Linked DNA regions of Homo sapiens. The protein of the gene in region 7 purifies or fractionates together with the protein of the main gene of each other region. This does not show direct contact. Each region holds a gene or a part of one and is shown on either strand. Other genes may lie near its edges. The genes, in order: SULF1, CNTNAP3, MGAT5, PCYOX1L, TTC17, LOXL2 and LYZL2.

What was found.
Region 1: the proteins of LYZL2 (region 7) and SULF1 purify together in Homo sapiens (affinity purification with mass spectrometry; 2 studies listed by BioGRID and IntAct, with this or other methods). This does not show direct contact.
Region 2: the proteins of LYZL2 (region 7) and CNTNAP3 purify together in Homo sapiens (affinity purification with mass spectrometry; 2 studies listed by BioGRID and IntAct, with this or other methods). This does not show direct contact.
Region 3: the proteins of LYZL2 (region 7) and MGAT5 purify together in Homo sapiens (affinity purification with mass spectrometry; 2 studies listed by BioGRID and IntAct, with this or other methods). This does not show direct contact.
Region 4: the proteins of LYZL2 (region 7) and PCYOX1L purify together in Homo sapiens (affinity purification with mass spectrometry; 2 studies listed by BioGRID and IntAct, with this or other methods). This does not show direct contact.
Region 5: the proteins of LYZL2 (region 7) and TTC17 purify together in Homo sapiens (affinity purification with mass spectrometry; 2 studies listed by BioGRID and IntAct, with this or other methods). This does not show direct contact.
Region 6: the proteins of LYZL2 (region 7) and LOXL2 purify together in Homo sapiens (affinity purification with mass spectrometry; 2 studies listed by BioGRID and IntAct, with this or other methods). This does not show direct contact.

What each region holds. Positions count from the first base shown.
Region 1 is NC_000008.11:69,499,069-69,503,173, reverse strand, and holds part of SULF1 (extracellular sulfatase Sulf-1 isoform 1 precursor), read right to left. Parts: intron 1,301-4,105; 5' UTR 1,206-1,300; intron 1-1,205. UniProt on the Homo sapiens protein: Exhibits arylsulfatase activity and highly specific endoglucosamine-6-sulfatase activity. It can remove sulfate from the C-6 position of glucosamine within specific subregions of intact heparin.
Region 2 is NC_000009.12:39,285,070-39,289,823, forward strand, and holds the start of CNTNAP3 (contactin-associated protein-like 3 isoform 1 precursor), read right to left. Parts: upstream 3,099-4,754; 5' UTR 2,996-3,098; coding exon 2,911-2,995; intron 1-2,910.
Region 3 is NC_000002.12:134,252,804-134,256,871, forward strand, and holds the start of MGAT5 (alpha-1,6-mannosylglycoprotein 6-beta-N-acetylglucosaminyltransferase A), read left to right. Parts: upstream 1-1,268; 5' UTR 1,269-1,600; coding exon 1,601-1,841; intron 1,842-4,068. UniProt on the Homo sapiens protein: Catalyzes the addition of N-acetylglucosamine (GlcNAc) in beta 1-6 linkage to the alpha-linked mannose of biantennary N-linked oligosaccharides.
Region 4 is NC_000005.10:149,356,340-149,361,180, reverse strand, and holds the start of PCYOX1L (prenylcysteine oxidase 1-like isoform 1 precursor), read right to left. Parts: upstream 3,136-4,841; 5' UTR 3,113-3,135; coding exon 3,025-3,112; coding exon of another isoform or gene 3,009-3,024; intron 1-3,008. UniProt on the Homo sapiens protein: Likely to have oxidoreductase activity. Required in the mevalonate pathway to regulate prenylation and enhances the bactericidal activity of neutrophils.
Region 5 is NC_000011.10:43,487,696-43,491,800, reverse strand, and holds part of TTC17 (tetratricopeptide repeat protein 17 isoform 1 precursor), read right to left. Parts: intron 1,563-4,105; coding exon 1,443-1,562; intron 1-1,442. UniProt on the Homo sapiens protein: Plays a role in primary ciliogenesis by modulating actin polymerization.
Region 6 is NC_000008.11:23,299,578-23,303,544, forward strand, and holds part of LOXL2 (lysyl oxidase homolog 2 precursor), read right to left. Parts: intron 3,821-3,967; coding exon 3,705-3,820; intron 2,587-3,704; coding exon 2,450-2,586; intron 1-2,449. UniProt on the Homo sapiens protein: Mediates the post-translational oxidative deamination of lysine residues on target proteins leading to the formation of deaminated lysine (allysine).
Region 7 is NC_000010.11:30,612,407-30,616,511, forward strand, and holds part of LYZL2 (lysozyme-like protein 2 precursor), read right to left. Parts: intron 3,016-4,105; exon of another isoform or gene 2,841-3,015; intron 495-2,840; coding exon 416-494; intron 1-415.

The DNA.
Region 1 (4,105 bases), on a different chromosome or scaffold from region 7:
AAAATGTTTAATTCGATAAGTATTAGAAAGAGAAGCTGGATAAAACAACCCTCAAAAGGCAAACCTGAAATTCGGGCCAGACTTGAAGACGTTGCTTTTTAGGTGAGGTTCATGAAAGTTTTGGTGATTACAGGACTTATTCCAAGCCACCTTGGGCCAACGGAAGGCTTAGAATAAAAATCAAGCAGGCTGGTTGTGGTGGCTCACGCCTATAATCCCGGCCATTTAGGAGGCTGAGGTAGGTGGATCACTTGAGGTCAGGAGTTCAAGACCAGCCTGGCCAACATGGTGAAACCCCATCTCTGCTAAAATACAAAAATTAGCTGGGCGTGGTGGCAGGCGCCTGTAATCCCAGCTAATCGGGAGGCTGAGGCAGGAGAATTGCTTGAACCCAGGAGGCGGAGGTTGCAGTGAGCCAAGATCACACCACTACACTCCAGCCTGCGTAACAGAGCAAGACTTCCTCTCAAAAAAAAAAAAAAAGAAAAAAAAAGAAAAAGAAAAGAAAAAAAAAATCAAGCAAATAGCAATGATTCTGAAGAGTGACTAATGAAATAGAGAGGAACTGAACATTTTCATTGCATTAGTTTTTAGGGGTGAAAGGGAGCAACTCTCAAAGTTGACATTTGAAAAAGCCTCATGAGGTTGTACCCTCATATGAACCCAAACCCTAGAAATGTTTTTGCCACCAAGGTGAAATTGCTGAGATGGGTTGCCACAACTCTCCCTGGCTCCATGAAAGCTCTTGGCACTAATGTTTATCTGGCCAAGGAAAGAAACTGTGAAGACGAGCTGTGAATAAATCAGATATCTGTACAGCTTTCACTCCTGACACTGTGGAGTATGTTGTGGATGGCTGTGCATGGCGGGCCTACCACACTGCCCCCTAATTCCCCTGAGCTTCCTTCCTGAGCAGCTCATAATATGTCAATAGTCATATGATTGTTTAGATTCCCATTTTTCAGATGGTTCTTCTGACATTTCTTAGGACTGATTTCGTGACATGGCTCTACCACGTGGAAGGCCCCTTTTAGCTCTCTCAGTCAACAAGAATGAGAATGTGATGGGAAGGTAGAGGACCATTGACTTTTCAGTTTCTGCCAGTTCTTAACAATTCCCCAACCGTGAAATGTTCCCCTCTTCAAGTGACATAGAGTGCCCAGGTGGTCCTTGGTTTAAGCTAGAGATAAAAATTTGATGAATACCTTTGAAGATTTTCTGCAATTATTCTGCCTTGAAGAACCTGCATGTCATTTGCCAAGTTTATCTTCTTTAGATGATGGTGGGTGGCCGTCAGCACCTACGATGGAAAAGAGCAAAATTGCCATCAGTTACGTTTTATCAGCAATTCCTCTCATCTTTCAGATGTTGCCCTTTCACAGCCTCAAAGGGGGTGATCATTAGGAACAATATTCTCTAAATTTCATCCAGACCGATTTTCTTACAATCACTCGCAAGAGTCTTTGAAGCATTGTGGGTGATTCGGTCCTTTTGTAGAAGTTTCTATTTTGACTGCTTCTCCAACAAGGAAAAGACTTTCCATTAGATTCATTTCATATCATTCTTTGACTGGATTTCATAGAACCATTAAAGAAGAGTTTCCTTTTAAAAGTTTACAAAGTGTTCCAAGTTTAAAGGTTGAGTGCTGTCTAATTTCAGGTTGGGAGACCTATTTTAAAGGAAAACGCGCTGAATCATGGAATCTTTTAAAGTTGCAGCAAGCTATTATTTGATGACTAGCAAAGTAAGCATTTCCAAGTGGTAAAATTTGTTTATATTCCACATTTTTGACAGCTGAAAAATGTAAGTGATTAAAATAAATTTGAACACTTTGAATATGAGGAAATTCCCATTTTAATGTTTTAAGTATCAAATGAAGCAATCTTGCTGCCATGAACATCTGACATATACATACTGTATGTAAATGTGCATATGATATAAAAGAGAACATAATATAAGATAGAATAAGGAAATGAGACCTCTTATTTAACAACTCAGAATTTCCTTCACATTTAAAAAATATTGATCATGCCCATGTAAATATTAATGTTTAATAAAGCATTTCATTTAAAGTCTTCATACTTTTCCACTGGTGACTACAGTTGTACCTTCGTATACATATGGGGGGATCTCAGAGGTAATGGGTGCAGATTTTTTCCCTCCATAGGCCTGGAATCTCTTTTTATCCTGAGCTGGCCTTGGCGAGTCAGGTTAAGCCCCAGGTCCTTTGCTTTGCTCTGGATGGATCACTCCTACCACAAGATTGCTGCAGCAGTGCCTCCTTGGAGCTGGCCTGGTGCTGCAGGATTCACTTTCCTCCCACACGACTCTCATCACCCCTCTTTCCACTCCAAACAGCAGTGAAACTCCGCCGCCGCTAGTTTTATGCCACCCTCTGCAATGTGGCCCACCTCACCCATTAGGCCTCTAGATCACTCGCTTCACTGTGCTTCTCCTCCTGGGGGTTGGGGAGTTCTAGAAGAACTTTTCCATCCTGTCTCCATGGTGCTGATATCACAAATTATTAGAAGCATCATGCAGATGCCCACTTGTAAAATATGTTCTGAGAGGACATATACATGTTTGTGCTTATAATTGTATGTGCACCTCATGATCTCCTACAGTGAAAGTTTACATCTGAATGTGATGTCAAAAGTATCTGGCTGTGGTTAGGCTGGCACAGTCTGATGTCAAAGAATACCTTTTCTGAGACTGTTCTGAATATGCTACCGGGCAGCTGAGTCTGGAATGAGATGCCGGAATACCAGGCTATGGCATTCACTGGCTATGTGGCCTTGAGCACATTACTTAATTTCTCTATGCCTCAGTATTCTCCTCTGACAAATGGGAATTTAAAATGGTATCTACCCCATAGGGTTGATGTGAGGATTACATGAAAACATTCATGTGAAAAACTTGCAAGACGACCTAGCACAAAATAAGGGTTCAATAAACATCGGCAATCATTATTACTTGGACTGATTTTTTTTAGACCAGTAATAAAGATACAACCTTCCTTGCATATTTGCAATCAAAAGACATTTTCATGAAATGAGACCAGAATTTTCTTAAATTTTATAAATGTAGACTTTGATTTCTCATCATTAAAATGATAATGTGTAGGCCAGGTGAGGTGGCTCATGCCTATAATCCCAGCACTTTGGGAGGCTGAGATGGGAGGATTGCTTGAGGCCAGGAGTTCAAGACCAGCCTGGGCAACACAGTGGGACCCTCATCTCAACCAAAAAATTTAAAAACTAGCTGGGTGTGGTGGTGTGCACCTGTAATATCAGCTACTTGGGAGGCTGAGGCGGTAGGATTACTTGAGCCCAGGTGTTTGAGGCTGCAGTGAACTATGATCACACCACTGCTCTCCAGTCTAGGAAACAGAGCTAGAATGTCTTTAAAAAAATAAATAATAATAATGTGTGGTATAATCATATAATAATTTAATTGTTATGGGCTATTGAAGAAAGAACAGAGGCAGCCTAAGTTCCTGCTGATATGTGTATGCACGTGAGAGTCAAATACTTCCTGCTGTGTTGTATGAAGGTTTGTTTGTTTCCCAGAATAGAGAAGGGTGATAGGATGACTTGGCCCTCACAGTTCTCAGCTCCAAAATCTCCACCCCAGAGGACTGATTGCCTGGATCCTTTCTTCTCTATAGGTGCCATCTTGTAACAGTTCCTTATAAACAGGTGTAATTCTTAATATGCAATAGAAATTCCTTTTGTTAAAATGTTTTTTCCAATTTCATTAATGAATACTTAGTTAAAACAAATTTATTCTTTAGTTTCAGCAAAACAGCATCATCTGGCAAAGAGGATTAATATGAATTAGAGTATTATTGGTGTATGGGTTTCGTTTATCCTTAGAGACTTATTTTGAAATTTTAATAGTATAAATAGAATTATGCTAATGTGTATTTATAGCTATACAAACATAAAACAACTTATACATAGCTTTTTGGGTACATATTTCAGTAACATTTTAATAGATAATAATGTAAGTCTGGGACCCGTTGCAGTGGCTCATGCCTGTAATCCCAGCAGTTTGGGAGGCCGAGGCGGGCAGATTGCTTGAAGTCAGGAGTTCAAGACCAGCC
Region 2 (4,754 bases), on a different chromosome or scaffold from region 7:
CTATAGTAGGCTTACCCTTCTTTCCCCAGGCTGGCTGGCGAACTTGCAAAACATAACCATTTAGGGGAAAAAATTGAGGCAATTAAAATTAAAAGTGTTTTAGGCTAAGTAATGAATAAATTAACCCACTGAAAAGTTACATCAAAGGCTATTACTCAGCATTTTACCAGTTACAGGAATTTCTGCAAAATCTGCCCAGCCATTTGTTTGTGTATCCCTGGGATCAGTGCCCAGCGTTCAATCTTTCTCTTGATGCTTCCTGCTGTTTTCAGGGACTCAATGAGAGCAGTAAGTGACCTTTCACTCACTGCAAGTCTATGGGCACTGAAGTTAGGAAAATATTTCCCTTCATGCAGAATCTTCCTAACAAAGCTTTCCCATGTATTTGTCGGGTCAAATAACATTCAGATAAACTGCACATAATCCCCAAAATGCCAAATGTTTAGAAAGCTTTTTTTTTTTGAGACAGAGTTTTGTGTTTTCCTCTTGTTGCCCAGGCTGGAGTGCTATGGTGGGATCTCGGCTCACTGCAACCTCCATCTCCCAGGTTCAAGCGATTCTCCTGCCTCAGCCTCCCGAGAAGCTGGGATTACAGATGCCTGCCACCACGCCCGGCTAATTTTTGTATTTTTAGTAGAGACAGGGTTTCACCATGGTGGCCAAGCTGGTCTCCAACTCCTGACCTCAGGTGATCCACCCACCTCGGCCTCCCAAAGTGCTGGGATTACAGACGCGAGCCACTGTGCCCGGCCTATAGAGCTCTTCCCATGAAGAGCCATTTCATGCCATCATCAACAGGTTGCCTTCGTGGGTGGCCAATGTGCTTCTCGAAAACCAGCTGTGAATAACGTGAGCAACTCATGGTGTCTACATGAGAAGGAAACTTTTAGATGTCCTTATTGACTTTCTTCTTGGTATTGAAGGTGGTATAATTATTACAGTTACATAGTTTTATCTGGAAGAATTACTTGATCTAAAAGGTAATTTAAAATTAGTAAAATTTATTAGATATGAGGATACTAAGTTTCATCAACGAAAGAAGACTGAAAACACCCACAGTAGTAGTATTGAAATTTCACGTGTCACTCAGCAACTCGCGAGAGTCCCGTCTGGTGCTGAGTCCATTTGGAATATCTGTCCCTGCCCTCCCCTCCTCCAAAAAGAATGTTCACTATAAACGAGAAGAGCTTAATTTCTATGGGCTTTGTAATCCTTCCACTGGATTCCAAGCAAAATAACTACCAATACAACTAATCCTGAGAATAAAAAGTAATCACAACTATGCAACAAAAACAGGAAAGGTGGTGGCAGGGTCTCACTCAGATTTCATTGCTTTGCTTTTCTCCAGGAAGGTCTTTTTGAAGCCCTGTTTATTCAATAGTAAGAGTGACCTCTAGTGACTTTTTTTGTTGTTGTATTTTGCCAGTTGATTGGTCAATTACTCTAGCATGCCTTTCTATAAGTAGCTCATTTATATGTTTGTTTAAGCCAAACGGCAGTTTCCATTACAAGACCCAAGGATTTTGATTTAAGTAACAACGTTTTATTCACAAAGCCTTCTCACAAAAGCAGATTAAAGTTGAATCTGAAACACGGTACAGCATCTGACCAAAGGAATCCGGAGCTTGTTTTTTGGAAGGGCACACCAAGTGTAGGATTAACTGAGGCGCAACTGAATCATGATGCACAGTGAGTTCATGAACCCATGTGCGTGCCCTGTGTGTGAAGAACCAACCCACCCTTGAGCCCGCGGGCAGAACAGCACTGAGCTACGGCAAACTTTTCATGACAGCTTAGGAGAACTGCTGAAAGCTACCCTTGGTTATCCTGCAATAATCTAAATTTCCAAACATGGCCACTGGCGTTTATTGGAACTTATTTCGAAAGAGATTTTGGTAGGAGAGGGCTGAGGCTGACAGCGGGGAGATGCCACTGAAAGAAAAATAAAAGTGATTTGAGAAGGAAGAGGAAGACATTTTAAAAATTCTAATCTCATGGTTTGATTAATCAAGAAAGAAAGACAACTCTCTGCTAGAGATTTACTCCAAGCCAAAAAAAAAATGTGCAATGTTGTGTAAACATTTTTATGTGTGATAAAATATGGGTACATTATGTTTTGCTCATCTGTCTGGAATATCATCATTACATTAGAATCATAGCCCATTCTAGAAATAAAGGCTTCCTAGGTGTTTACCAAATTAAGGAAAATAAAAAACAGGGAACCTGATGGCAAATTAAATAATGTAAAATATTAGCATCCAGAGAGGAATCATTTTCAAGATCACCTAAATGACTGGCTGAGTTTTGTCTTTAAGCAAGAACTTTCTACTATGAGAAACGAAGCCCCTGACAGGGGTGTTCAAGTGTTATTCCCTTAGTAGTTAGGACAGGTTATTAATTTAGTTTCACCTACAGGCGCTCTGTCCCTATACTGCATGGAAGTTAATTAGCATTTTAACTCTGAAGCTGCCAAGGTCGGCAAAACTGTAAGCTGCTAACATCTAAGTTGATGCAGTATGATGTAATGTCTGCCAGTTTTTTCCCTGTTAGACTTAATTCCTACAAAATATTACAATCCTAAAAAGGAATAAATGACAGCATTTGCACGCTAATCTCTTATTAAGATGCTTTTCAGGTTTTACAGAAACGTCCACTTTCTCAATGAATATTCAAGTACATCGATTAAAAAGTCAAAACATGCATGGTATATCTTAGACTCCCCCACAAGAGGAAAGTCTATTGTAAACAAAATCGTCTTTTTCGGGTTGCAATTCCAAATTTTTTTTAAGGTTCTTCATGTTCAGGAGCATGTTCTGCAATTCCACTTCCAAATATTACCGATAATAAAAAAAAAAAAACAAAGTTTTCCAGACAGCCTAGCGCAAGTTTTAAACCATTTGCTGTACTTACGTGGATTTCCTGCTCCCACGGGGCTCCAAGTCTGAGTGGGGAGAAGCAGCAGCACCTTGAGGACGGCCCAGGCCACTGAAGCCATGCTCACTTCAGCCAGGCGCCCTGAGACCCGGGCACGGCGACGGCCGCTCTGCGTCGCTCCTGCTCTCACTCCCGTCCCCTGCGCGGCTCTGACGCTGCTCTGCCTCCCCTGTCCAGTCTCTAGCTCTCTTCCTCACGCACCAGCAGCCTCCCTCGGCGCTGCAGACCCTCCCGCCAAGCCGCGCCCGGCCCCAGCTGCGTCTCCGAGGTCGGCCCCGCGGACTCGCGCCGCAGCTTTCTGGAGCGCTCGGGGCCGCGCGGCGCCACCCCAGGCACGGAGGCGGCAGGTTCAGGCGCGTCCCGGACACTAGGCGCGGGAGGCGGCCGGCAGCAACGCGAGTCAAGAAGCGAGCGGGAGGGACGCCCCAGCTCCGCCTGGCGCTCTCCTCCCGTTATACCGGCAGCTTCCTCCGTCCCTCTCTCCCACCGGGGCGGGGCGGCCGCGGTGCACGGACTCGCGCCAAAGACCGCGCCGTCAGCCTCCGCCTGCAGGTGGAGAACGCCAGGCTTTATCACTGCGCTGTTCACCCAACGCAGGGGCTGCACCCAGGAAAATGCTGTCCTGTTTGAGTTCAAATAGGGAAGATGGGGCAGAAATAACTCTGCGGCGTGTACTTGGGCAGACGCGCGCACACTTTGATTTTGCTAGGAATTCTGACTTGTAGAGAACCAAGCTGGGAAACCGGGCCAGGAGCAGGGAGAGGCCGGTGAGCCTGGGTTGTGCGAGTGCAAGCCTTTATTTAAAGTTTTAATATTTTGTCTATCATGGGTTTTTTTTTCTTTGCGATTACATTCAATTTTAAAACTATTTCATTCATTCAGGATTAGCGTTACTTAACAGTTGCTCCTGAGACTAGTGCGTTAGTCCCTTCACCCTAGTCCTGGCCTTGGTGGAAGTCTAAAATTTACGTTTTATTCCAGCTTTCTGTCCAAAAGAGCAACCCCTGCAAGTGTAGGATGAGGAGCTCAGTCCAGCAGCAGCTAACACTGCACTCCTTGCGCGCCTACTGTGTGCTAGAGGGAGGGGCGGAGGCAGGGGGCGGGGGGGGGGGTCTTTCTCTTTTTCTCTTCCTCTGCTTCTCAAATTCACAGTAGGGGCAAAGATTGACAAACTCACTCACATTACCACCACCGCGAGTTTCCAAAAAAGAAAAAAGAAAGAAAGATACTTTTTTAGATGGTATCTCTAAGAAATAGTGTATTAATCTTCCCTTTAGAAAGACAACTTTGAAAGGCTTTTTCATTAAAATGAATTCAAATGTAATAGATGTAAAATGTAAAATGAATTCAAATGTAATAGATGAAGAATCTTACAAAGTCATTCTTGAATTATTAATTGGGTTCACTTAAACTACTTTTGCACAAGAACTCTGTAAATAGCACGTCTTTTATTACAGAAAAAATTATAAATCTAAAGTTTTGATTGACAGATCAGTTGCCTTCAGTGAGACAGAAAGAGAGAAAATGGAAATCATTTTCTAAATTGGACCTAGAGTAAAACAACAAATGTCAATCTATTATTATACCAATTTGTCAGGCATCAGATGGAGTCTTTAAAAATGTGAACTTGGCCGGGTGCAGTGGCTCATGCCTGTAATCTCAGCACTTTGGGAGGCGGAGGAGGCCAAGAGGTCAGGAGATGGAGCCCATCCTGGCCAACACGGTGAAACCCTGTCTCTATTAAAATACAAAAAATTAACCGGGCGTGGTGGTGCCTGCCTGTAGTCCCAGCTACTCGGGAGGCTGAGGCAGGAGAATTG
Region 3 (4,068 bases), on a different chromosome or scaffold from region 7:
AACAGGCTGTTGGGGGAGTGAGGATGATGTAGGGAAGGTGGGGCATGGTTTAATAACCCCTGGGCCATGCCTAGATGATCAGTCCTCTGCCACATAGCTGGCTGACCTTTGCCAAGTTAATCACCTTTTACCTTTATTTTCTCATGTTTCTAATAAAACAGAGACGATAATATTCATACTTCTTACCATATAGAACTTCTGAGGATTCAGTGAGCAAAGCCACAAAAGATGGTATGTCACAATATCTGGGATATAGCTAGAATTTATAATTTATTTTTACTCTGTTGATAGGCAATGGGAAAACAGTAAGAGGCAGACCAACAGTGATCCAGGGCTCTGAAAGCTAATTGCTTCAAGATCCTGCTACCATTTTCTTTTGGGCCGCTTGCAAAGAAGAATCCTTTGACTGAAGCATGTATGTACACTCTGAAGTACAGCCTGGGTTAGTCTCTTATAAGGGATCGGATCATTGCTCAGCCTCTCCCTTGAGTGGCACTTAGAAAATGGCGCTATTCGTAAGCTGACTGGTATTGGGCCCAGGACTCTGGCTGAAGGGGTGGGCATGCTGGTAACCATTTGCAACCTATGCTCAGGTCCTACTTGTTGGGAAGCCCTGATTGAGAAGAGTGGCCTGGTCTGTGCTGGCATTAGATAGGATCTGGCTGCATTAATATTGAAACTACTCTGCCTTTTAATGTCTCATTTTGCCTCATGGTGGGAGTGAAAGTGAGAACCACAGAAAATCTGCCTGCCAGGTGTTCCACATTTCTTGTGCTACAGCATGCAAGTGAGCAGTGAGGTGTACCTTTTCCTCATGTAGCTGGGAAAGCAATACCCCTGCTTGTACCTCTGGCATATCTTCTCTGTGCTGGTGCACCTAGAGAGGTTGCCTGGTGGCCCTGAGAGAGCCATCTCATCACTAAACACTGATGGTGAAAGCTGGCCATGCTCAAATAAGATGTAGCAATCTACCTCTTCTTTGTCTAGTTACCCCCAAGGGGGCATCCACTTTCTTGCTCACCTCACCAGTTGCATGTTCTAGTCCTTGCCAGAAGCACATAATAATGACTTTGTAAGCTTAAGTTACAGGCACACAAAAGGGCCTGATGGTGATATGACTCCACCCTCCCCGTTTTTGCTGACATTCCGCCAAATATCCTTCTGTCTCCTCCCCACCTTGCAAAACAAACTTCCTGTTTTGAATTTGGTCCAGGCTGGAACAGCCCCACTACACCTGTTAACACACGCAGACGCACACTTCCCCCTTCATAATTGCTTAGCTTCTTGTTGCCTAGCCAGATTTCCCCTCAGCTTACAGTTCCTGAATCATAAGATATTGAACCAGCAAATTTAAGAGTTGACATTTTACTTAGAGGTATTCAAGTGAAAACATGGCTTCTGGTTTATTTTGCTGTATTGTGCCATGACCACTTGGCTAATTCTTCTCCTCCTTCACAGCAGAATGGAAGTGAGGAAAGGCAACCAGCTGACACAGGAGCCAGAGTGAGACCAGCAGACTCTCACACTCAACCTACACCATGAATTTGTGTCTATCTTCTACGCGTTAAGAGCCAAGGACAGGTGAAGTTGCCAGAGAGCAATGGCTCTCTTCACTCCGTGGAAGTTGTCCTCTCAGAAGCTGGGCTTTTTCCTGGTGACTTTTGGCTTCATTTGGGGTATGATGCTTCTGCACTTTACCATCCAGCAGCGAACTCAGCCTGAAAGCAGCTCCATGCTGCGCGAGCAGATCCTGGACCTCAGCAAAAGGTACATCAAGGCACTGGCAGAAGAAAACAGGAATGTGGTGGATGGGCCATACGCTGGAGTCATGACAGCTTATGGTAAGCACTGTTTCTGGGACCTCTCCATTAAAGTGTGCCTTGGCCTTGAAATGGCCCTAGAAGCTCCCAGATATGGTCTTGTCATGGACTGAATGTCCTTTGCCACTGCCTTCATAAGCAGTGAATTGCACACAGAGAGGCATCTTTAGGAAATTAAAGCAATGCCATTTTGGGGGTTCTGAGCTGGTGTATGCAGACACACTTTCCCCTGGAGTCAGTGGGTTAGTATAGTTAGGGCTCTATTGGTTGTGTTTGCAGCTAGCTCCTTCTCCCTGAACACATTTCAGGAACCATGTGATCTCATGTGGGAGTGAGTTCAGGGAATGCTGAAAAATATTCTCATCTTTCCCTAAACAAAACTTAATTAAGGCTGGTGGGGGTGAGGTGAAGAGGATGGGGAGGAATGTTCTATGGAAGCCAGTAAACTTAGAGCCAATTGTGTTCCTCCCTCCAGCCAATAAATATGACACTGGCACTTGCATGCTGGTGAGTTTTAACCTTTGGCTTCTTGAGGTTATGTTGCTCTTCTTCTTGCCCTTGTCTCTAACTGCCCTCACTTTGAAAGGAATCTTTGTGTACTTGTTGCTTTTTCTTTAAAGAATTTTTTTCAGAATTCTTTTTGAAATCAGAAAGAGTAAAAAAATACACATATGGGATGTAACTTATTTTTCTTTTATGTTTAATATAGAAAAAGTTGGAAGCTGTAGACAAGCAAAAAAAGAAAAAAATTACACATAAGTCTACTACTCCAGGCAATAACCACAATTAACATTTCAGTGTGTATTTTTCTGATACTTTGCATACACACACAAATATATATATACATATATATACATATATACATATATATACACATATATACACATATATATATACACACACATATATATATACATACACATACACACACAAATACTTGGAAAAAAATTGCAAATGGAATTTAGATCATGCTGTGTTTTGCAGAGCAGACTTGGTCTGTAGAAGATGACCTGTTGTTGAGTGACAAGAGTCTGATCATTGAATTGAGGTTTCAGTGGTCTCACTGAAGTGGTCTCCCTGATAGTATAGATGAGATGCAAGAATGGGGTTAGGTGAGGTGGAGAAAGTGGAGTTGTGTTTTGTGACCCACTCAAGGAAGGTGCCCTGAAGTATGCCGATTTCAAATCGTGATTCCCAAAAATGTGCAGCAACAGTTCAGTTCAGTGCAGGTTGAGTTCAGACACAGGAAATCATACTCAGTTATACATGTGCTTCTTTCTTTCCAAAAGGGGAAAAAAACTTGTTTTTAAAAAAGTATGTAAAATTTTATACACACGTATGTGTATGTGTGTGTGTGTATGTGTATATATTAGAAGATGCTTACTTCTGAGGAACATTTTAGAAATTCTTTTCTAGTTCTTACTATGTAAATAATCACACTCTGCATTTAATCTGTTAAAAGTGTCTGTAGGCATTGGCTTTTAATATATCTAAAAAAATGGTACCTTTTTTGAACTGATGGATTTAAAAAATGAGATTCCACTGTGGGAGCTTACACTGAAAAGTAACTAGGTAGTTTTTCCTAGAGTTGCATTTTAAAATTGCTCATTGACTCACATTTGTGTAACATTTCCAGAGTAGTTTAGATAAACCAACAGAAAATAAAGCTGATTGTCACCATTAGTGTTACCAATGTATATGACACAGCAGGTAACACAGGTGCAGTTTTAAAGTTTCTGGTTGTATGCATTTCATGTTACAGCTTTGAAGGGAAAGAGTTACAGCTCAGTGGTAATTTTCTCTTGTTTCTCTCAGTCTGTCAAACCTTTTCCATGGGCAAGAAGAAGCCCCACAAATAGCAAATTTATAGGCTTTAAATTTCTGCAGTTGTTTTGGCTGTTTGTATTTCTTGTGTATTGATGAAAATCTCATAGGGAAGGCTTCCCCACATTTTAAAGGACAATAATTTGGTCTTAGCTTTTCAGCCTCACAGAAATATTATTTTTTAAGTTACAAAAAAATCCCAGAATAGGCTGTTAGAATTTCAGCCACCTTATATGCCTGTAATCATAAGACTTTGCATCTCAAAGAAACTATAGAAATTATTTATTCCAACTTACTTTCGTAGATGAACCTTAGCAAAATAATTTGTCTTTTTCTCAAAAACAACAAAGAAACAATCAAACAGGTCACATCAGCAACTCTAACTGACACTGCTAGTTTTCTCTTTCATCGAATCAACTTTAAC
Region 4 (4,841 bases), on a different chromosome or scaffold from region 7:
TGCCTTGGCCTCCCCAAGTGCTGGAATTACAGGCATTAGCCACTGTGCCTCACCTGACACTAATCATTAAACAGTCCTGTGAGAGAACTATAAACCAGCTATGAAGCTACTGAACTGGACTACCACCCTACCTATAATTTTTGCTCACCATGTATCTGAAACACCACTCTCTTCTCATCAGACAGTCCAGAGGCCTTACCCCAAAAGAAAATTAAATAAATCTGGTGTAATTTGTCCTTACTGGACCCATTTGGACCCACAGAGTACCAGTTCCTGCCAGAAGTCACAGGCAATCCTCAGACAGCACCAGGTTCTCTATGATCTGGCCTCTGCTTACTTATTCCATTTCCTGCTTTACCCTCCCAAGATGCCACCTTCTTGTCTGTCTAGGCTTCTCTTATTGTGGGCACATAGCTTTGTTCTCTCATGCCTGGGCCTTTGTCCGAGCTGTTCCCTTTGATAGGAGTGCCATCACCCTGTGTCTCACTGGCTTCAACAGCCCTCAGATGTCACCTATAACTTGGCTTGACTGACCCACCTGAGGTGAGTCAGGTGTTCCTCCTGCATATTCCCACAGCACACTCTGCTTAGCCGTACTGTAGTCAAGTTATTTAAGGACAGAGAGAGAGTGCATGATCACTATGTCCCCAGATCCTGGTGGACAGTAGAGTTCATGAAGTATTTTTTCTGTGTTGAAAGAATAAACCACTTCCTCTCACAGTACTTACAAAGCCACTTCCAAGACAGCTTTGGATTTTATTTTAACCAGTGTGCTCCCATCCCCTCCATGTGCAAAGAGTCCCAAATTACCCATTTTTCCAGAGAAATTGATATTAAGGCCTAGAAGCTGCCCAAGATCAGGAAGCAGAAGACACCACTTCATTGTGAACCAGCTCATTTAACACAACTGACACCAATTCTCTAATTTACAGTAAGATGTCCTGGGGCACAAAGAAAAATCAAACAGGCTTCTGTCCCCCAGGACCCCAGCATGGAATGGGCAGACAGACTCCTGCGCAATTAGCAACGACAACCCATGATGAAGTGCAACAGGGTTCCAGGGAGTCCTGAAGGGGAAGCAGTGAATTCTGCCCCAGAGGGTGTGGGGACACAGCCTTCTTGGGGAAATAAGATTTCATGCAAGATGCTGGAGGACAATCAGCTTTGTCAGTGAGAGGACACGCACACTCTGCAAAGAGACCAGCATGAGAAGGGCAGCATATGGAACTATATGGGTGGGTTTAGAGGGTCCTGATGCCACTTGGGGGTTCTCAGATTTGGTCCTGCAGAAGCACAAGCATTAAGCCATCCTAACAGGAATCCGCATTCTTGTTGTGGGTAGAGTCCAAACCACCAAGGATGAACAGAGGCTCCCGTCAGAGGGCTGAGGAAAATCTAGAAAGCTGAAGGGCAGTGAGGCATTGCCAAGTGTCCTGCTCTGGATGACTCTTGGATGGGGCCAGAAGGGCCAGCTGGGAGGAAGGAGGCAGAGAGCTCCATGTTGCCACAATGCAGCAATTCTGCTGGGTGGAGGTCCTGCTCCTTCCCCAATGGTGAGAAATGTCCTGTCCTGTTGCCTGTTCCTAAGAAAACGGGGAGTGCCCTGCATATTCCCACAGCACACTCTGCTTACTCCTAGCCACACTGTATTCAAACGATCTAAGGACAGAGAGAGAACACATGGTCACTCATGGATACTGCCTGCCTAACTCTTCCACATCCTTCAATGCCTGGCTCAAACTCCACCTTCTCCATGAGGGCTTCTCTGGCTACTCTAGCCTCAGGATTCTCTTTTCTTGGCAAGCACTAAACTCTCAGTCTCAAACTGGTTTCTGGCATGCTTCAGTCTTCTTAACCCTGTATGGCCTGGGCTGTGGTTCTGCTACACAAGAAGCTTTAGCACTGCACTGGACCCTGTAAGTTTGTGATGCTTCTATCAGATGTTCCAGGCACTCCTGCCAACTGGGGTGCATGGAGAGTGGCCTAGCGGAATAGAGTCTTTGTCCTCCCACCCCGAAGCCCAGGATCTCTGCCTGTGGGAATATCACGTGTGAGGGACTTGAAAATCTTCACGAGTCATGTAGTTAAAATGACAGTTGTTGAGGGAGGAAAAAAAAAAGCAACTGTAAACACATATGACACTCTAGTCAATGATATGCACGATGACGTATTTAGTGAGGTGTCCTGATGTCTGCAATTTATTTGGAGATGCATCAAAATGTAGGCTGGATTCGTGGATGTCTAGAACAGTGCGTGATAGTTATGTGACACAGCAAGTATAGCAGCAGTTAATGGCAGAATGTAGGTGGTGGGTATACAGATGACCACTATAAAATTCTTGCTGTACATCTGAACATTTTCAAAATAAAGTATTGGGGAAACCACACACACAATAAACAAAAAGACTGTTGTTAAAAGTTCCCCGTTCTGTCAGCAAATCTCCAGCGGACCTAGTGTTCTGTCTCTGCCAGGACTGTCTCCTATCGACCTGGGGGTGGTTTGGCTTAGATGTTACTTCCAGGAAGCCCTCCCAGGGCCGCAAAGACAGGGTGAAGCGCCCCTCCTCTGCATGCACCGTACTTCCTCAGCTCAGCACGGACTTCCCTGTACTGTGAGGGCTCTACCCCAGCAGGAACTACAGCACCACGTCTGCTACACAGAGAGCCCTCAACCAACCTCTGTGAATGCCATCGCCCAGCCTCTCTGTCCTCTGTCACCCGGGCGCCTAGCCAACAGCCAGGACCATGGCAGATGCTCAGCGACCCTGGACCTCCCGGTGAGATCCGCGGCCAGTCCTGCCCAGGCCTCTTTTCCGTCCTAGGTGGCCCTCTTCACATGCCATGCCCCGGCCCCATCAGGACCTTCCCTGCCGCGTCCCCTTCGGCGCCTCTCCTCCACCCAGCTCCTTTTCCGAGGACCCCTCCCTCACCCAGCCGCCCTCCTATACCCCACCTAGCTGAGAACTGAGAACCCTTTACCCGCCGGCCCTCCCCAGCTGGGAACCCCACCGCGTCCTTCCCGCACCGATTTTGCCCGGCGGGGCATCTCCGCCAGCAGCGGCGGCGGCGAGGAGCGCGGTCAACGCGGCGAGCAGCGGGGCTGCGCGGGCCATGGCGGGCGGCGAGCGGGCAGCACGCCGGATTCAGGCGCTAGCGGGTTGGCGCTCGGCTCTCCGCCCCGCCCCGGCGCCCCACTGGCAGTCCCGCCTTCCTGCCGCGCCAGACCCAGCTCCGCATTGGCCAAGCCGCCGTCCCTCTCCAGCACGAGGCCCTCATTAGCTCCATCTCTCTCGGGGTAGGCTCTCTCATTGGCAGCTTCCCCGTTCCGCCCCGCCCCCCGCATGCGGGCTCCTCATTGGCTGGGTTCATTCTTGCCCGGCGCAGGTGTGCCCGCTTCGGGTCCTCAGCATCAGGACCAGGGCCCAGCTGCGGCAGAGGGATGAAACAGACCAAAGTGAAGCTTTGAAGACCTCGGTTATGTCCAGCCTCTGCGTTATTAGCTCTGTATCTTCTCTGTGTCTGTTTCCTCTATTATAACACAGACGAAGAATCCTGCTCCACCTTTCTAGGTGGTTGTAACCATCTTATGAGATAAGGGAAGCCTTTTGCAGTGTCTGCAAGTGCTGGAAATTGCTGACCAAGCATGCGGCCAGGGTGGTAAGACGCTACCTCATTCATATGCTGACACAAGCCCTATGCTTTCTATACTGCTGTTATTTATGTGTTTGCAGTTTTTATATAGTTAATATCTCTGCTTTCTGCTTCCTAAAAACCAAAAGGCGGGGGAAGGTTTCATCTACTCTCTTTTCAGAAAGGAGAAAAGGAGGGATAAACTCCCATTTTCATCCTCTAAGAAGACAAGAGCAGCAGCTCAGACTTGCTAGTTTATCACGCTGTGAAAAACAGACTTCCTCTGGCAGAAAATAAAGTTAGGGATGAGTTTCAGAATAAAGAAAATCCGGAGGCTGGGGGTGGCTCAAGCCTGTAATCCCAGCATTTTGGAAGGTCAGGCGGGAGGATCGCTTAGGCCAGCAGTTTGAGACCAGCCTGGGCAACATAATGAGACTCTGAGACCCCGTCTCTTAAAAAAAAAAAATTCGCCAGGAGTGGTGGTGCACACCTGTAGTCCTAGCTATTCAGGAGGCAGAGGTGGGAGGCTTGAGACCGGTAGTTTGAGGTTACAGTGTTCTATGATTGTGCCACTGCACTCCAGCCTGAGTGACAAGAGTCCCTGTCTTTAAAAATAAATAAATATATAAAAATAAATGAAATCCATATTTACTCAGTGAGATTATGGCTAAAATAAGAAACTGGGCCGGGCACAGTGGCTCATGCCTGTAATCCCAGCAGTTTGGGAGGCCGAGGTGGGCAGATCACTTGAGGTCAGGAGTTCGAGACCAGCTCGGCCATCATGGTGAAACCTCATCTCTGCTAAAATGCAAAAATTAGCTGGGCTTGGTGGTGTGCGCCTGTAATCCCAGCTACTCGGGAGGCTGGGGCAGGAGAATCGCTTGAACCTGGGAGGCACATGTTGCAGTGAGCCGAGATTGTACCACTGCACTCCACCGTGGGTGACAGAGCGAGACTCTGACTCAAACAAAAACAAAAACAAAAAACTGAAGTGATTCAGAGAATGGTGAAAGAGCTTATAGCTGGGGTTCTAACTCAGCACTGAGACTTAATTTACTTGGGCCAAACTGGATTACTACTAGTAAACTGGTAGATGAATAATCATGCATTTGTCATAATCTTAAACTTTTTTTTTTGGCAATGTTTGTGTCAGGATGCAACACCTTTTAAGTTCATTTCCAAAGGTTCAAGATACTCCCTTAAACAGTTTTT
Region 5 (4,105 bases), on a different chromosome or scaffold from region 7:
GAAAACAAACACAACAAAATGTCAGCTGAAGTAAACAATCTGCTGAATAATGTAGTTGGTTTCTTCTGGTGAAGCTCCTTGTCTCATTGCAGACTGCTAATAAAAAGTCTGTGTACTGTCCACAGACCACACTTAGAGTCATGCTGTCAGAAAGCCAAAATAATTTCTGCAAGAACCATTATATCATTACGGGTTGGCAAACTTTGGCCCATAGGCCAAACCTAGTCTCCTGCCTATTTTGAAAAAAGTTTTATTAGGACACAATCATTCCCAGTCCTCTACGTATTTCTGTGGCTGTTTTCATACTACAATGCTAGAATTAAGTAGGTGCACCAGAGGCTGTCTGGCCTCCAGAGTCCAAGTGTTTTATTCTCTTGCCCTTTTCGGGAAGTTTGCTGACTCCCAGAGGTAGAGCCTCAGCCCTTCCCTATTGCCTAACAGTATAGAGTACAAAATGATGGATGGAACAAGTAGCAAGATTGCTATCATCACAAATATCATTCCCTTTAAATGTCTAACTTGAGCAACTGTTACCTGTATCATGCCATATTGGGTTCTGTAGCAGACACAGAAGAAACAGAAAGGACCCATCTTTGTGACAGCCATAGAATGCATGACTCTAGATGAGCTCATTGAAGTTCAATAAGGTGCCCAAATTCACAAAGCTAGTAAGAGGTAGAGCTGTGTTTAAAACTCAGCAATGCCTGACAATAAATCCTGTGTTCCTTCCATCATTCCATACATTGCCTTGACGAACAAAGAAGACACCAGCCATGTCTTTAAAAAGCATAAGATCTGGATTAATGCAGAACTCAGAACACATGAATACAAATGTGCTGATAAAACACTGTATTTTCTCATCCATCATAACAATAACCGGTCTTCTGGAAAAGTCTGGTGTCACACAGGGTTAGCCGGTTTTTTTTTTTTTTTTTTTTTTTTTTTTGTGGAAAAAGTAGAAGTCAGACAAGGACCAGGAACTGGCCAATGTACATGAATAAATGGAAATTTGCTTCTATCTCTGTGCTTGGAAGCAAGCTCAAGCCAAGAGGATAAGCAAAACAAGTCTAAGAGGTCACCAGGCCCCTGATGACAAGCTAAATTCAGATTGACTTCTATGTGTCAGCCCACTTAGGCCAGTGCATTTGCTGTATGTTGGGTGGCTCTGAACACAGCAGAAAGGGGACTAAATGCAGTACTGTCTTACAGTGATCTGGAAGGCCTTCCCCACGTTCCAACCTGCTGAAGCTGGGAAGGCAGCAGGGATAGTTCATAGGCTTGCTGGGGCACAAGCCCAGTCAGAAGGTCTCCTGCCCCATTCTCTCCTTGGAATATGTCCTCACTGGCTGAGCATGAGGGAGGCTGGTTCAAAGGGCAGAATAAACCATGGGGAATGGAAAGGACAAAGGGGCAGAAGTTCCCACCTTCTGAGTCCCACTCACCTTCATCTGGTGTGGCGCATAGTGCAGAGCCTGGCGGAGGCAGTCGATTGCCTTCTTTCCTTGGCCTTTCACCCTCCAGTAGAGGGCTGCCATGCTGGAGAGGACCCAGGACGTCTGGTTCTGCAAAGGAATGTTAGCCAAGGCTGGTGTCCTTTCAAGAACATACTCATTTATTACCAAGATTAAGTTCAGTAACACAAGTCATGACCATTCAACTGAGTATTTACTAAGTGCTGGCACTCTGCTCAGCACTTTCTGTTCCACCTGTCCTTCATTAATCCTTAGAACAATCCTGTGAGCTTGATACTACTATTACAGCCCTTCTATAAATGAGAAAACTATGACTCAGAGAGCTTAAGTGTCTTGCCCAAGTTCACTCAACTACTGAATAGCAGAACTATATCTCATATCTATGTTCTATTTTATTTAACTTTCTGAATAGGTAACACAGTCACACGTTTCAAAAACCAGGAAGTATACAAAGTTATACCATGAAGTCTCTCTCCCATCCTCGTCTCTATGGTAGACAAGTAAACATTATTTTTAATTTTTTACGTTTCCTTCTAGAATTTCCTCCCCTCACCTCCCCCCTCCCCCCTCCTTTCCTTTGTCCTTTTTTTTTTGAGACAGAGTCTCGCTGTCGCCCAGGCTGGAGTGCAGTGGAATGATCTCAGCTCACTGCAACCTTCATCTCCCAGGTTCAAGCGATTCTTCTGTCTCAGCCTCCCGAGTAGCTGGGATTAGAGGAGTGCACCACCACGCCTGTCTAATTTTTGTATTTTTAGTAGAGATAGAGTTTCACCATGTTGGCCAGGCTGGTCTCGAACTCATGACCTCAGGTGATCTGCACACTTCGGCCTCCCAAAGTGCTGGGATTACAGGCATAAGCCACCATGCCCACCCGGATTATAACAATTTAATCTCCTGCCAGAAATATCTAAGTATCACCATTTCCTTATAGCCCCATCACAGAGTTTGTTACTAAACTCTTAGGCCCCTGACAATCTGATGGGTGAGAAATGTGGTTTTAATCTGCATTTCCTTTCTTATGAGTAGAGTTGACCATTCTTCCATATTTGTTAGCCTTTTGAACGTCTTTTCTGTAAACTATTTGCATTCATATTTTGTTAATTGTTCTGTGAGGTTTTTGTCTTGTCTGTTGGTAAAAAGTTCTTTATATTTTAGGGAGATCATCCTTGCCTATGATTTACAGATAAGCTTCCCGAGTTTGAAGTCTGTCTTTGGACTTATGGTACTTTGTGTGATGTAGATTTTGATTGCTACAGAATTTGGTTTTTTAGTGATCTTCAATGACTTCTGGATTTTCAGTTGTAGTTAGGAAGCCCTACCTCATTCCAAGGATATAAAGAAATTTTACTGGGCCAGGCTTGGTGGCTCACGGCTGTAATTTTAGTGCATTGGGAGGCCAAGGCAAGAGGAGATCAGCCTGGGCAACACAGCAAGATCCTGTCTCTACAAAAAATAAAAAATACAGCTGGGCATGATGGTGTGCACCTGTAGTCTCAACTACTTAGGAGGCTGAGGCAGGAGGATCGCTTGAGCCCAGGAGTTTGAGGTTGCAGTGAGCTATGATCACACCACTTAGTGCACTTCAGCCTGCAGGAGACAGAGTGAGACCCTGTCTCTTAAAAAGCAAAAGAAATAAATATTTCACCATTTCCCCTACAGAATTTTTATAATTTCATTTTTTACATTTAAATATTTGATCCATTTGAAATTTAATCTGCTGTAAAGTAAAAGATATGGCTCCAACTTAATTTTTCTCCAGATAGCTACTAATTTGTCTCAAAATTTAATTAATAATTCACCTCTCTCCCCACTGAGATACTACCTTTACTATATATAAAGTAATATATATATTATACTATATATAAATACAGTATTTAATTTAGGTTGAATTTTGAATTTAGGTCTAACTTTGGATTTTTAAAATCTATTTCATTTGCAACTTTTGGTTGATGATCTCTGACTCCCAGCCATTACAGAAGAGGCACTCAGAAAACTTAACTGCTTGTCTGATTTGTGTTTTCAATAACATTTTTGTTAATTTTATAATTCTACATTTTCAGGGCGTATAGTATTTACATTCTGACCTATCACTCTATGCCTCACCTTTTAGTATTGGTTTTACAGCTGAATATAATCAGTGGTCACTGACATTACTTTTGTGTGGTTTTCCCAATCATCTCCTGGTTGGCTAAAGCTCATCTTCTAATAGTTTCCTCAAGAACGGCTCATGGGAACAATATTCTTTGAGATCACTGCTATGGGTTGAACTATGTTCCCCCAAAATTCATATTTTTAAGTCCCAATCCCCTGTACCTCAGAATGTAACTGTATGTGGAGGTCTTTAAAGCAATGATTAAGTTAAAATAAGGCTATTAGAGTGGGGCCCTAACTCTAAATGACTGGATTTATATGAAGGAGCTAGAAGAAGGACAGACACACCAGGGTCCTGTGTGCACAGAGGGACAACCATGTGAAGAGGCAGCAAGAGGCCAACTGCAAGCCGAAGAGAGAGGTCTCAGGGGAGACCAACCCTGCCAGCACTTTGATCTCAGGCTTCCAGCCCCCAGACCAGTGATAAAATAAATTTCTGCTGTTTAAGCCACCCTGTCTGTGGCATTTTGTTCTAGTGGCCC
Region 6 (3,967 bases), on a different chromosome or scaffold from region 7:
TGGGAGAGTGTCTGTGAGGGAACAGAAAAGGGGAGGTTTACGGTGAGGACCCGAGGAGAAAAGAGAAAGGGAGGGAGAGGGAGAAGAGACAACAGTGGTGAACAGAGGGGCAGAGGACACAGATGACAGGCCTTCCCTCGAGGGTCCTGCCACATTTGGAAGGGCTGCGACCCACAGCAGGGGGGCGGGTACAGGCTGCTCGTTCAGGAACATTCTCTAAATTTGGGGCCCCAGAAGGGCCTGGACACGAACCTTTAGCAGGCCGCTGGGCTTGCCCAAAGAGGTGCTGTGGGAAGCCAAGGCCAGCCTGGCAGCCGGCCCTCTGCTCTGGCCCAGCGGGGCTGTTCTGGGGGCCTGCACCTGGCTCAGCTGTGTCCCGCTGGGGCCCTGTGCCTTTAGCTAAGGAGGTACATGCCCTGCTCCGGGGCGGCTTGAGTTTTTTCTTTTCCACCCAACCATTCTAGCTGCCCCCTCGTTCCTGGCCCACACATGGCATGGGGCAAACACAGCTCCACATGCCAAGGCCTCCAGCTGTGCAGGCCTAGGCAGCTCCTTGGCCGCCCAGGCGTCTCGACAGTGCAGCCGTGAGGGCGGCTGGATGCAGCAAGGGCTCGTGTTGGGGACACGAGGGCCAGTGTTACGTGTGGGGTGGAGGCGGGGCTGGAAATGTGTGTCCCCCACTGTTTCACCCCACTCATCTACTGCAGACCGACATCTCACGAGGGCCTGCGGGAAGTGGCTTTAGGTTTCTGTATGTCTGTGAATCTAGGAAATGATGAGAAAGCGGATAAAGCGGGGCCACCAGGAGCCAGGAGGCCCCTTCACCCCTGCCTCTGAGCTCTGCACAGGTCCCTCTGCGTGGACGGTCACTTCCTCCTCGCCCAGCTCCCTCCTCCTGTCCTTCACAGCACCACTGATGTCTGAAGTGAAGACCACCTCTTGTGTCCCGTGAGTCCCCAGGCCGGTGCTTGTGGCACCTAAAGAAGCTCCATGTCTATCTTAAGGGGAATGTTCTTTTTGATTAATCAGAGGTATTAACATGCCCCTAATGAGTCCATTTGCTAATTGTATTGTTTAGGGGTTGAGAAAACAAAATAAAGAGTTGATATGTCTGGGGTTGGGTGGCCGTGAAATGAGGGTAATGATGATGCCCCTTCCTTGGGAGATTAAATCAAACAATGCATTCCCCAGGCTTAGGCAATTGATAGTAGTTATTAAGTGGATGGCACTGGCCAGAATACAGGGAGATACACACTCACCCAGCAAAATGATAGCAAACCTCAAACAGAAACCACCAGGCACTGTATACGTGCACATGGCCACGGCTATTCATCTTTTAAAATAAATAACTCTCTGGTTAGGCCTCTCCAAGTCTGTGGTTCTGGGCTTGTGGGTGGAAAAGTGCTTGGCTGTCTGCTTTCCAGCCTCTGAAACTGCCCAGGAATTCTCTGAAAGCCCCTCTGTGGTGACTTCTCTGAAGGTGTTGTTTCTTCAGAGGACTGTCTGTAGGTGGGGACCGTGGGCCAGGCCCTGGGCTGGCTGAATGCCCCCTCAGGAAAGCTTTCAAGGTGGAATGACACATTTCTGGTCATCCACTTTGCTAGCCAACAGGGCAAGCTGGAAAACGAGATGGGTGAGGACGTAGGAGAGAGTGAGAGGGTGAGATAAAGCTTCTGCAGGCTACGTGTACCCGTGCACTGGGAGAGACACTAGGGACACAATGCCCCTTTTCTCCCCCAGTTAGAGCCCTGGCCAGAACATGCCGCTGTTTTCAGGAAGGAGGGAAGCCAAGGCCCCCTTGTTCCTCCTCAGGGCTGGCCTTCCACCCAGAGTATGTGGAAACAAATCTCGGCAACCCCTCTGACAAAGAAGTCACCTGGCCAGGCTGTGTCTCGTGTTCAGTATTTTATTCTTATAGATTCACTTTGCATTGAGAATGGCCCCTTCTGCAGATCCTCCTCTATGAGGCAGATATTTCCGGAAGAGCTAAGTCACAGATATTTGCAAGTGACTGGCTCTTTATGAGTTTGCTTTCAGTCTTGAAAGCACAGACCAAGGCAGCCTAGGGCACTAGGAGAAATGGGGATGGTGGAGACAAGAGCTCCATAGGAGACAAGAGGTGTGGGTTGCCTGAGCATGTATGGAATAAACTGGCCGGAGGAGCAAATCTAGCCTGCTGATGAGTTTTGATTTGCATGCACCAGGTGTTAACTCAATCAAATGTGAATGCCTGTGGTGTCTCTGGTCCTGTGCACGCCCTATTTCTCAGGCCCCCATGCCTGATATCTTTGGGTTAACTGATGGACCGTGATGGCCTCTGGGGGTAGCACCTTGCCCTTTAGACAGCCTGACTTCCATGCCCCTGTGTGGACACCAATGGGAAGGAGCCTGTGGAGGTGGCCTCCCCTCCTCCCCCTGCAGGGCTGGAACCCCTTCCCACCCACCTCACCTGGAACAGGTAGTCTCCAGGGGGCACGTCAGTGATGTCAACCCACTGGCAGTCGATGTCATGGCGGTACATGTCCCAGCAGCCCATGGTGATGCCCTGATCGCCGAAGTTGGCACACTCGTAATTCTTCTGGATGTCTGCGGGCAGGGTAGAGGAGAGCTCATCACCAGGGAACCATGGCCCCACTGCCGCACCCTCTTCCTGCTTCCAAGGCCCCTACCGCTGCTTCATCTGGGCTCGGCATCCCACCCCACTGTGTGGGCTGCTCATCTGTTCTCATTTCAGTAGAACCCCCCACTCAATTCCCTACCCACATCCTGCCTCTTCTCTCAGGCCAGGCTCAAGTTCCCCTTCCTCCATGAAGCCCTCCCTGACCACTCTGATCCACCCTGGCCTTTCTGTGACATCCTCAGCCTGGGGATAACTGCGTGTGTGTGGACCGAGGAAATCTCTGGTGCCTGTGGTTTAGCAAAACGTGGGGGGTCATACTGTCTGTCTCCTCTGGAGGATCGGCAATTAGAGTGTAGGCCCATGTCTCTCTGACACTTACATGTTATCTGCACATGGTAAGAGGTCAACACCTGTCTGCTGTGTGATTTCACGGCAAGTCAGTGGCGGGCCGCTTCAATGAATAACAAATTAAACACGCATTTACTGAGAAGCTGCCATGCCTGGACACTGCTGTAAACAGTGGGTCTAGCAAGAAGAACTGACATGTCTCCCCATGAAGAGCCCCCAGGGCTGCAGGTGCACTAACAGGTGATCACAGGGCAGGTGTGGTGACCTACCAGAAGTGTGAGCAGAGTGCCACACCTGCCGGGACGGGGGGGCGCTTCAGAGGAGGGCATTTGAGATATAATTGAAGGGTGACACCTGGTGTGGTAGGGACACTTGGCATTGGGACACCAGAAAAAAGGTTGGTGGCAGCCAGAGTGGGAGGGGCATACGCATCAGGGTCTAGGCTGCTAAGCCCAGATGGAGCAGGGTCCCCAGAGTCTGGATCTTGTCCAGGAGGCCCTGTGGACCGACCAGTGCCTGTCAGCACAGCTCTGGGGAATCCGGGTGCCCTTGGAACCAGGTCATGCCCATGCCCCCAGCGCCTCACTATAGCTGAGGAAGGTCCAGGTGGGGAAAGGTGGCAGTGGTCAGAGTGACACAGGGTCAGTGCCAGGCCTGGGCTCCAGCCAGGTGATCGTGGAGGCAGAGGCATTCGAGTCCCTCTGAGGCCTCCCATCCCCCCACTCCGCTCAGATACCTCCTTCACATTCTGTGTCCTCCAAGCAGAAGCTGGCCTTGTGGCCCTCTGCCACCTTGGTGCCATTGAGGTTCAGCAGGTCATAGTGGGTGAACACCTCCATGCTGTGGTAGTGCCTGGAGCGAGAGAGAGATGGCCTGGAGGTCAGTTTCTGGAGCAACTGCTGCTTGCAAGCAGAGGCCTGGCTGGCGATTTGCCTCTGGGAATACTTCCAGGGGACCAGAGGGGGCCGGGTGGGGAGAGGAGTGGATGAGAGGCCTGAG
Region 7 (4,105 bases):
GCTCACTTTCCTCTTGCTGCTGCTCATTCTCTTTCCCTGCAAAATGTTGCCGTAACCTTCAAAATCTTATCCAAATCTAGAGCAAACTCAAGCTTTTTTTTCCCTCTGGTGAATTGACTCAATTGACCCTTTCCAAGTCACTTTAGAAAATACCTTTCTCCATTGTTTGGAATATGTTCATATGAAAAGCAATTGCAAATTATCTTAACTCACTCCCATGTCTCTGCTCCCTTTCTATGTACTACTATGTTCACTGCACACCCACACACTGATGGAGGAGAATATAGACAAGGTCTCCTTCCATTGGTTGGACCACTCTGCGGAGGTGAGTTTGTCAATTCCACCATAACTGTGATAAATACACACACTAGGTTTTGCCCATGACAGCCCAAGTCTTCCAAGGAAAGACTCTTACCAATAGTTCATTCCTTGTGTCTCTTTAACAATTTTCTTGGCACAGATAATCGCATCTGTGAGGTCATCAGTGACCAAGGCTGTAAAAAGAGAGGTCATCAGGGTTAGGCGAGACTTTGTTGTTGGAGAGGGACCCCAACTCAAGTTTACTTCATTTTTCTCAGTCTTTTTGGGATGGGAAGGTTGGAAGAACTATAATTTTCCCTGCAAAGCCACAATCTCATTTCTGTTGAGCTTCTTCATAATGAAAAGAACTTTGCTTTTGTTTTAAGACCATCTTCATCTTGCACTACCTGACATTTCAGAGGAAGAGCCCAATCCTGAAGGGTTTTTGGAAATGTGTTTAGAGAAGACGCTATGTGAAAATGTTCCTTATGTCCTACAGAAATAGGCACAGGCCGGGCGTGGTGGCTGACCTGCAATCCCAGTACTTTGGGAGGCCAAGGTAGGAGAATCACTTGAGGCCAGGAGTTTGAGTCCAGTCTGGGCAACATAGCAAGACCTCATCTCTACAAAATGTAAAAAAAATAGCCTAGTGTGATGGCACACACCTGTGGTCTCAGCTACTTGGGAGTCTGAGGTGGGAGAATCACTTGAGCCCAGGAGGTCAAAGCTGAAATGAGTTGTGTTTACATCACTGTACTCCAGCCTGGGCAACAGAGTGAGACTCTGTCTTAAGAAAAAAAAAAAAAAGGCACATAAGACAGGATAGTATAGTGTTTTCTGTATTTGGGTTAGTTTGACGTGTAAGGTTTCTTTACAGGTAAATATTAAATTTTGTCTATTGTCATTTTTCAGTTTGTGTCTTAAAAAAATTTTATCCAGGGTGTTTTTCATGTGCAGAAAGTTTTACCTTTTAAATCAAATACACCAGTCTTTGTCTTTATTACTTTTCCTTTTCTGTTTCCTTTTTGAGACAGAATCTCACTCTGTCACCCAGGCTGGAGTGCAGTGGCATGATAATAGCTCACTGCAGCCTCAACCTCCTGGCCTCAAGCAATACTTCCACCTCAGCCTTCAAAATAGCTGGAAATACAGGTATGCACCACCACGCCTGACCATTTTTTATTTTTATTTTTGTAGAGACAGGGTTTCACCAGGCTGGTCTGGAACTCCTGGGCTCAAGCAATCCTCTGGCTTTGGCCTCCCAAAGTGCTGGGATTACAGACATGAGCCACCATGCCCCGCCACCTATTATTTTTTCTATTGCTTCAGACATAACAAATCTTTGAATTGAAATGTATTAGTTGATATCCACATTCTTTCCTGCTTGCTTAGAAGCGGCCTCAAAATCCTCAACACAAACATGACAGAAAAAGGCAAATAAACAAAACAAGTTCAACATTACTTCTACTGCAAGTTGAGTCCTCCAGGAGCTGATGCTGAGATGGGTTTGAAATGCCAGATATTTTCAGCAATCCACACCTATGAAAGGAATCGGCTGGGGGGAAGCAGGATGGGCAGACGGAGATGTCCATTTGTGACGCAGACCCAGCAATTCATTGGGCAGCCCAGCCATGAGCTCCCGAGTGAGCACTGCCCATCAGAGTGGCCCAAGTCAGGCCCACATGCCAGGTCTGAATGCCTCTGCCTCACACGTCAATGGGTGTGGGTCACCCCGGAAGGGAGCAACCTGCACCTGAAGCCAATCCTGAAGCAGGTGGCAGGTACTGTCTGCTCATCACACAACTGCAGCGGGGGCAGCATGTCTTCCCTTAGCAGGGGATCTGGGAGGCCCATCTCCATGACCACCACAACCACCAATCAAGGACAAAAATACTCAAACCACTTGATCTCATTACTGCTTGTCAATTATGCAAAGATTTTTTTTTTAAGAGAATTGGGTAATGCTGGATGTTGACAAGGGCACAGAGAGGCAGGTTCTCTGGATACTTGCTGGTGGGAGTATAATGGATTCAATGTCTCAGGAAACCAACATAGCAGCATGTGTTTAGAGCCTTAACGAGGTTTTTATCCTTTCACCTAATAATTTCTCTCTCCAGATCTATCCTAAGGAAATAGTCATGACACTAGACAAATATTTCTTTACAAAGTGGTTTACTATAGCATTATTTACAAGAGTTAAAATGAAAAAATCTAATTGCCTCATAATCAGTGATATTCAAATTAGTCATAATACCTTCATTTAATAAAATAAAGAGCTGTTTGAATTATGTTTTCCCAGGATATTTAATAATATGGAGAAATGCTCCCAATGCAATGTTAAGTTCCCAATATCATAAAAATATCCATTGAGAGCTGTATTGGCTAATGCCAATATGGCAGGCATTAGCAACATGTGATAATTTAAATTAAAATTATATTTGTTGACAGGTGAATGGATAAAAATATGTTTATATAGAGAGTGGAATATTATTCAGTCATGGAAAAGAAGGAAATGCTGACATTTGCAACAACATGGAAGAACGGAAGGACGTCATGCTAAGTGAAGGAAGTGAGACCCAGAAAGACAAATACCACATGATTTCACGCATATGCAAAATCTACAAAAGTTGAACTCATAAAAGCAGAGAGTAGAGCGGTGGCTGGTTAGGAAAATGGGGAGATGCTGATGGAAGGGTCCAAACTTTCAGTTATAAGGTGAGGAAGGTCTGGGGGTCTAAGGTAAGCTATTGTGACCATAGTTAATTATACTGTACTGCTTACTTGAAATTTGCTGATAGTGGATCTTAAGTGTTCTTCTCTCTCTCTCTCTCTCTCTGTCTCTCATACACACACTCTGTCACACACACACAGTAATTATGTGAGGTAATGTTAAACTCAATTGTAGTGATCATTTCCCAATGTATAAATATATCAAATTATCATGTTATTTACTTTAAATATATACAATTTTGATTTGTCAGTTATACCTCAATAAAGCTGGGAAAAATATAAAAAATTGTAATTAATTAACATTAAAGACAATTAAAACTTTAGTTCCTTATTTGTTCTAGCTACATCTCAGATACTTTATAGCCACTCATGGCTAGTGGTTCTGTTTGACAGCACAGATGGAAGACATTTTTGTCATCATGGAAAGTTCTATTAGATAGCACTGGTTTAGAAAAAAAAAGATAGTCATTAATTCACCAGTATTTTAAGAAAGATTGGCTCTTAACTGTGGGTTCACCAATGCTTTTATGTCTTTACTGTATATTTTCTAAAATTTTTTACAATTGAAATGTACTACTTTTATTACCAGAAAAATAACCAAAAATAATGTTAGCATAAAATGTTGCATTTCAATAAGGCATTGTAATTCCAAATTATTTTGTTAACTCAGTTGAAAGTGGAATTTTTCCTTGAGCATGCTATTTCCTTGAGTTGCTAATTTTGTTGCTTTCTCAGTTAGGCTTCACTAGAAGATAAACGTAGTGATAGATTTTTTTTAAGCAAATTTATTCTAAATGTGGCTTAATTTTTATTTGAAACAAAATTCTATTAACCAGGAGAAAAAGTAACAAAATACATCGTCTATAAGAGATAGCAATTGAAACAACATACGCAGATTCACTAGCATTTGGTTTATAGTTCTACAGTGAAAACTAAAGCTATATCAGCTTATAAAATTCTCTTGCCAGCCTGGTGCGGTGGCTCACGCCTATAATCCCAGCACTTTGGGAGGCTGAGGCGGGCAGATCGCCAGGTCAGGAGATGGAGACCATCCTCTCAAAACAAACATCCATCT